2 linked regions of the Homo sapiens genome follow. The protein of the gene in region 2 purifies or fractionates together with the protein of the main gene of each other region. This does not show direct contact. Each region holds a gene or a part of one and is shown on either strand. Other genes may lie near its edges. The genes, in order: RNPEP and GBP2.

Region 1 (3,823 bases), about 110 Mb from region 2:
GACATTATAGCAGCGGGAAGTGGGCAAGGGGCTTTGGGGTGTTGGTAAGAGGTAACCAACCACACACTTGGGCCAGGGAGGGAAGCCCAGTCAGGAGGGTCTTGACTGCCCAGGAGAAATGAGTGGCTTGCCGGAAGGGAGGCTGCCATGAGCTCAAGGAGGAGACATGGTGGAATATAGTGGGAGAGAGGCCGTCAGAGAGCTGGAAGGTTAGCAGAGTCAGGATGAATGAGGACAAGGGGCTCAAGGGCCTTAAAAGTTCAGATATGGTACAGTTCATGACAATGACGATGTCTAGGCTCTAGACTCCAGAGCATGGGTGTGAATATGGGTGGCTGACAGAGTGGAGAAGGCTCCCTGAGTAGAGGTCAAGAAACCCTGAAGGTTGGTGTTGTGGCTCATGCCTGCAATCCCAACACTTTGGGAGGCCGAGGTGGGAGGATCTCTTGAGCCCAGGAGTTCAAGATCAGCCTGGACAACATAGCAAGACCTTGCTCCTGCAGAAAATAAATAAAATTAACTGGGCATGGTGACAGAGTAGCTGTGGTCCCAGCTACTCTGGAGACTGAAGTGGGAGGACTGCTTGAGCCTGGTAGCTTGAGGTTCAATGGGCTGTTATTGTGCCACTGCATTCCAGCCTGGGCAAGAGAGCGAGGCAAGAAAAGAAAGAAAGAGGGAGGGAGGGAGGGAGGGAGAAAGGCACAAGAAACCCTGCAGCCACCCTCAACCCTGGGTGTTAGGAGAGAAAAGTCGCCAAAGATGATGTGACAGGAAACCAGACAGAAAAAGATCATGGGACGGCAGTCAGTATCTTCAAGGAATTACTTTGTGAATTGTTCTACCACCACCTTGGATGTCAAAATTACCACAGTCCTTCAGCCCAGTGGACTTCAGCTTGTTACAACTAGAAGGTTTAAGACAGTCATCCAAGATACCTCCACCAGGACACACATTTCTGTCAAAATAAATCAGGATGCTCTCAGTCAAGCTGCAATCTCACTACCTGTAGTATATTGCAAAGAGCACTGGATTTGCAATGGAAATACCTGAATTTTAATTCCAGTTTTGCCAACTAGTGGTCCTGCACAAGCCACTCACCACAGCCTTGGTTTGCTTATTTTTAAAATGTAGAAAGTATCATCCTCATGGAGTCTGTGTAAGGATTAGAAGAGATTATACATAAAAGGGCCTACTGGGATATACCCATAATTCCCCTCTGCCCAGGATTTTCCTCTTGCAGTAACAGGGACTGGGATAGGTGGCATACCTTGCCAGAAGACCCTCCGATTTAATAAACCCCCACGGCCCGGCGTGGTGGCTCATGCCTGTAATCGAGCACTTTGGGAGGCCGAGGTGGATGGATCACGAGGTCAGGAGTTCAAGACTAGCCTGGCCAACATAGTGAAACCCTGTCTCTATTAAAAATATGAAAATTAGCCAGAAATGGTGGCACACACCTGTAGTCCCAGCTACTTGGGAGGCTGAGGCAGGAGAATCACTTGAACCCAGGAGGCGGAGGTTGTGGTGAGCCAAGATCGCGCCACTGCACTCCAGCCTGGGCAACAGAGCAAGACGCCATCTCAAAAATAATAAATAAATAACCCCCCACAAGACCCTACGATGTGACCCAGGAGGCAAGAACTGTCCATTTAATCACGGAAGGAATAAGGCATTACCACCAGTTAAGTGGATTCTGTCACCTAGTTCGATATACCATGTTGTCATTTTATTACAGGCAGTATAAAAAGAAATCATTATCACTCAGTATCTTTAGAATCTATTGTTCTCTCATTTCCCATTAATAGTTCATACTCTTACAAGTAGAACCTTAGTAAGGGTATTCTTGGAAACGACGTTCCTTTACTTATCTACTTGCTTGTCTATTGCAAAGATGACATCCTTTTGGTTATTTCCCGCCCTGCCTATTAGGAAGACAGCCCTTCGTAAGAGGAGGGCACTTTGTCTTTCCAGACTGGTATTGTTTTGAATGTGTGCGCTGGGAGCAGATGCCAATGGAATCCCATTTATTATTCCAACTGATAACCAGAAACTAAGACTCATGATACCAGCAGTGCCACTGAGCCCAGTTATGAAGTCTGAGGCTCGTAACTAATGTTGTCAAGGACACCACTGCCTCTAGGAACTGGGAGCAGGGCCAGAGATAAAGAACAGCAACAGTGCCAGGAAAAGGTCACGGCTTCACCGTCCAGCCTGTGATGCTCCCACATTGGGACTAAGCTATGGTGGAGGTAATATGAGAGCCAGGAAAAACCTATACTCCTGGTCAAACCTCTTTTATCAGGAAACCTTACAAAATCCCTTTTTATCTTCACAAGATCCATGTAACTTCACGGAGGCATTGCTCTCACCGTAGGCTTAGACTCATGCATCTGCTGCAGATAGGAAGGAGAGTCCACTTCCCTCTTCGAGGGAAATGATACCAAAGTTGTTATTTCCAGGAACTACGTGCAAAAGAAAATGGGGAAGATTTGGTACAAAGATAGGAAAGTGGATATAGCTGCTAGAAGGGCATTTAGAACTTAAAGATATTAATAAAGATCCATTTCCCAGGCCGGGCATGATGGCTCATGCCTGTAATCCCAGCACTTTGGGAGGCCAAGGCGGGTGAATCACCTGAGGTCAGGAGTTCAAGAGCAGCCTGGCCAACATGGTGAAACCCCGTCTCTACGAAAAATACAAAAATTAGCCGAGCGTGGTGGGGCATGCCTGCAGTCCCAGTTACTTGGGAGGCTGGGGCAGGAGAATCGCTTGAACCCAGGAGGCAGAGGTTGCAGTGAGCCAAGATCGCACCATTGCACTCCAGTCCAGCCTGGGCAACACAGCAAGACTCCATCTCAAAAAAAAAAAAAAATCCATTTCCCAAAACTGCAGCCTAAATTCCAACATCCCTCTGTAAGGCAGCCCAGGACAGCGCTACTGCTAGCAGGGATGATGATCTCATTCCAGGCAGCAGGATTAGAACTGGAGAGAGGGAGTGAGAAAGGCAGGGAGAAAAAGAGCACTTCCTCCAGCTGTGCTCATGCTGCATGAGCTGCAGAAAGGCTCTGGACTCAGACAGAGGATCCAAGACTGCCCAAGAACCCCCCCAGCAGGTCCACTGGTCAGAGTCCTCCTCACCTCTGAGGCCAATCCAACCTTGCCTGTGGGGTCTTTGTCTCCTACCTGGGTCCAACTTCAGCCGAAACCAGATCTCCGATGGCCAAAGCTATCAGATAGGAGGGGATGGGCTGACACATCTGGAAGAAGAACTTATTTGGACCTCTCTTCTCCCAGGTGCTAGCACTCATCACAGCTGTGAAGCCATCTGGGACCTGACAACAGAGAAAGCTTAGGAGATTTTACCTGGAGAGAGTTTCCTTTTGATTAGTTTGAATAAGAGCATGACCGGCCACCTGTGTGTGATGATAATGGCCTGGAGTCTATCTTGGAGAACACAAAGGTTTCAAGAAACTAAATCTGTGCTCAACTGATGGGATTTAGAGGAAGGCTACATACAACTTCAGTAGGTGGAAGAATTTAAAAGTAAGCAATTTTTCAGAAGTACCACTGAATGGATATAATAATTTACCACTGAAACGTGACCTGATTGATAGATCTGAAATCATTTCTTCATCCCAAGGGCAGGTGCACCTAACCTTAGTCTCCTTACCTCAATAAGAGCTGAATACTTGTATTTAACAGCAGGCGTGTCGAAGCAAGGGAAGAAGGCCCGGTTTAGGACAGCCTGGCCCTGGGTGTACACGAAGGGCTTCTTCTTTCCTGCTGTCTGCTCGGGAGCCAACCAGCAAACCTAAGCGAAAAG
Region 2 (3,806 bases):
GTTTCTGTTATGCCTGCTAAGACTTTATGTCTGGAAGCACTGTTATGAGTAGAAAGATTCCCTAACCAGGCCAGGTGCAGTGGCTCACACCTGTAATCCTAGCACTTTGGGAGGCCGACGGGGGCGGATCACCTCAGGTCGGGAGTTCAAGACCAGCCTGACCAACATGGAGAAACCCCGTCTCTATCAAAAATACAAAATTAGCTGGGCATAGTGACGCATGCCTGTAATCCCAGCTATGCAGGAGGCTGAGGCAGGAGAATCGCTTGAACCTGGGAGGCGGGGGTTGCAGTGAGCCAAGATGGCGCCATTGCACTCCAGCCTGGGCAACAAGAGTCAAATTCCATCTCAAAAAAAAAAAAAGAAAGATTCCCTAACCATCTACCCACTTAAGCACACTGGTTAAGTGCCCATGGTGCCAATACTTTCTTGTTCTCTGGGCTCTTTTCCACATTTACGTTTGCCCAGAAATAGCCTATGGGCCACTGTAAGCCCTGATCTCCTCAATTTATTTCTGTTACCTCCGAATTTTGGAGACCTGTACTAAATTCCCTGATCAAACACTTGCCCTAGTCTTGAGTTATATAGTAACCTACCAATTGGAAATCATCTATCTTTCATACCTTCCTAGATATATATTTAAGAGTCCATTCTATATAGATCAGAAATGAACAACAACAACAAAAAGAACAAGAGAAAGTTATGGTTTTTCCAGAAAGACTGTGTTGCATGAGTGCAAATGGTGAAGGGACCAAGGAATAAAACGCTGGGTCACTAATATTTTAGAAACTGTAGAACAACAACATTTTTGAAGCTAAAAAAATCATAGAAAAATTATTGGCAGGTATAGGAGACTCAGAAGAGAGTGATAGTCAAAAATTCTTGAAGGATCAATATAAGTACCAAAAGGGGAACTAATCTGGTGGAAATGTGTTAAGCTGGATAGGCTTAGTCTCCACTTTCCCTTTTAGGAACAGGAACGCCTTCTCAAGGAGGGATTCGAGAATGAGAGCAAGAGACTTCAAAAAGACATATGGGATATCCAGATGAGAAGCAAATCATTGGAGCCAATATGTAACATACTCTAAAAGTCCAAGGAGCAAAATTTGCCTGTCCAGCTCCCTCTCCCCAAGAAACAACATGAATGAGCAACTTCAGAGTGTCAAACAACTGCCATTAAACTTAACTCAAAATCATGATGCATGCATTTTTGTTGAACCATAAAGTTTGCAAAGTAAAGGTTAAGTATGAGGTCAATGTTTTACCTACAGAGCAATTCAACTCATGCTTATTTATAGTACTAACTTTTAATATGATCTTTAACTAAATCCTATATTTGAAATCATACACAAGGACTCAAGAGAGATATTGTGTAACTAGGATGCATTTTCCAATGAGATATCTTGCAGTTTCTGTTCTGGGTAGATTTTTTTCTCTCATATGCACCACCCTTACTGTATATTCAGTCCTATACTCTTATTCAGGGATTTAACTATGGTCGTAGCATAGGGCTGAAGTGTTGTGAATATGATGAAAATGTGATGAGACCAAACAAACCATGGGGCACAGTAGAGCATCACTCCTGCCAAGTGGTCTTTGTATGGCATGCTGGCTGCAAATAAAGGAGATCTGGGACACTTAACTAGGCTTTTAAAGTACAGACAGTGCACAGTTCTCATTTGGGTGGAGGCTGCATGATCTGTGGGCACTAGCAGAGAAAGTGGTTGCCTCTGTGCAGAATGCATTTATGAGTAGAGGCTCCACCTTCTCTGTCCATGTAAACCCTCTAGGTAATTACTGCCCCATTCCCAGGCCACCTAGATCTCTCTTCTCTAGTCTCCCTTAGTCTTTTCTCTTTCCTGAAGTTTAGAAAATAACTTCTACAATCACAGAAAGGAAAGCTTTAACTCAAACTCAAATTACTTTCCATTCTTCTGAGGACCAGGACTATAATCCTATAAAGCCTAAAACTTGACTGCATTTTTCTCTCTGCTCCTCTGCTATGACATTATATCCTCAAAGCTACTCAGGGTAAATGACTTACTAAAAAAAAAAAAATGACAGATTGAAAAATCAAGAATAATTCATTAATACAAAACATTATCCTACTACAATTGTTTCAGGATGTGTATTATTCAGAGTTCTTCATGGCAAATAACAATCTGCTCAGCAATTTAAGTAAAAAGTAATTTACTTTTTAATACCATTAGGTTGCACACCGATGCTCCAGAATTGTGAGGGAGCCATACTCTACAGCTATTCCACCGAGGATAATACTACCATTGTAAAGGCATCTCACGGGAAAACAACACAGCTACCATGAACCAGCACCATGATCTCTGGATGAAATGCTGGAAGCTTCTGCAGTGTCAGCTATGAGTAAATGGATGCCACCACCTTCACATTTTCAGTAAACAAATACTCCCCTACCCCATGAAAAGTTGCATCTTTGAGCTGCTCACATCTCCAGCTAAGCCTCACAAAAGTCAATCTGCAGGGAAGAATCTAAATCATATGCCTACCCATGGGAAAGTCTGAGAATTAGAGTATTTTTGTCTTCTACTTTTGGAGGAAGAAACTAATAACGTGGGAAATTTTCCTGTATGTTTAGTCAACCAGTTTTTCCATGCAGATGTATGGAGATAAATCTTATAGTAGGAATAACCTAAGACTTGAGTTAGTATTTTTGTGTACATCAGATACAACACTCTTCTCATCTTTTTTGTCATTATTTTTCAATGTTGTTTTAATCTTTCCACTGTTGTTTCATGTCATGCACTTTGTTAATATTCTTTAAGTTATTCTTAGTTTTTAACAATGATACTTAAGAAAGACTTAATAGGACTATAGAATAGGTACTCCCTATTCCCCAACCCTGGGAACACAATTTAACATATTAGTTCATTTGTATTTAAGATCTATCTTGTTTATGCCTCAGTTTAGTTATTGCTCTTACCTTTCAAACAGTTAGTATTTTGTATCTAGTTCTGTGAAAGCAAAAAGCAACTTTATTCTTTCTTACAATTCCCCTTTTACTTAATCGGAACATTTCTTTCCTGTTTGTTCATTAGTCACTCTCAGATAAATGAATAGTCTCTTTTTCTAAAAAAAAAAATAACATTTGACCTAAATTTTTAAATGTCTGAGTTTTGATTTAAAGTTCCTCCCCTTGTATCTTGCTCCCCCTCAGATTCCACTCAGTCACACAGCCCAGGCCTGATTCAGCCTTACAGGCACACAGTGAGAAAGGTGTACGACTTTTTATTTTCATTTCCAGCTCTCCCTCCCACTGGGTACACTAGCTCATGTTGATGATACCTTCAAGTTGTTAACACTAGAGTGCAGGGAATTAAGGAAAAGAAACCTTACATGATACATAACTGATCTGGTGTTGGCACCTTCTGGTGGTGGCTTAAGTCCTTAAGGATGATTTGGGTTCTTTGCTGATCCCCCTTGCCAGGACCTCCCAATAGCACGTCCCTATTGTAGTCCACTTCTGATTCCTTTCCTCAAATTCTCTCTTCTAGAGATCCACTCATTCAATATATTCTTGGTGTTGAGATCAATGCCTCTTGACATGTTGACATCTTGTGCAGGATTTCCTTCAATATGACCCAAGTCCAGAACACCCCAGTGATTATACCCATGAGAAAAACTCATGCGCACCAGTTTAGCCATACACCGTAGGAACAGGATTCCCCCAACTCTCTTTTCTTTCCTATTTTGCCACAAACCATTCCATCCCAGACTATCACTTTTAGATGTTTTTAGGCATAAGTTGGGCACCAGTACTAGTGTCCCCAAAC

The links.
Region 1: the proteins of GBP2 (region 2) and RNPEP fractionate together in Homo sapiens (co-fractionation; one large-scale study listed by BioGRID). This does not show direct contact.

The regions. Positions count from the first base shown.
Region 1 is NC_000001.11:201,988,892-201,992,714, reverse strand, and holds part of RNPEP (aminopeptidase B), read right to left. Parts: intron 3,812-3,823; coding exon 3,671-3,811; intron 3,333-3,670; coding exon 3,184-3,332; intron 1-3,183. UniProt on the Homo sapiens protein: Exopeptidase which selectively removes arginine and/or lysine residues from the N-terminus of several peptide substrates including Arg(0)-Leu-enkephalin, Arg(0)-Met-enkephalin and Arg(-1)-Lys(0)-somatostatin-14.
Region 2 is NC_000001.11:89,105,457-89,109,262, reverse strand, and holds the end of GBP2 (guanylate-binding protein 2), read left to right. Parts: intron 1-971; coding exon 972-1,088; 3' UTR 1,089-3,131; downstream 3,132-3,806.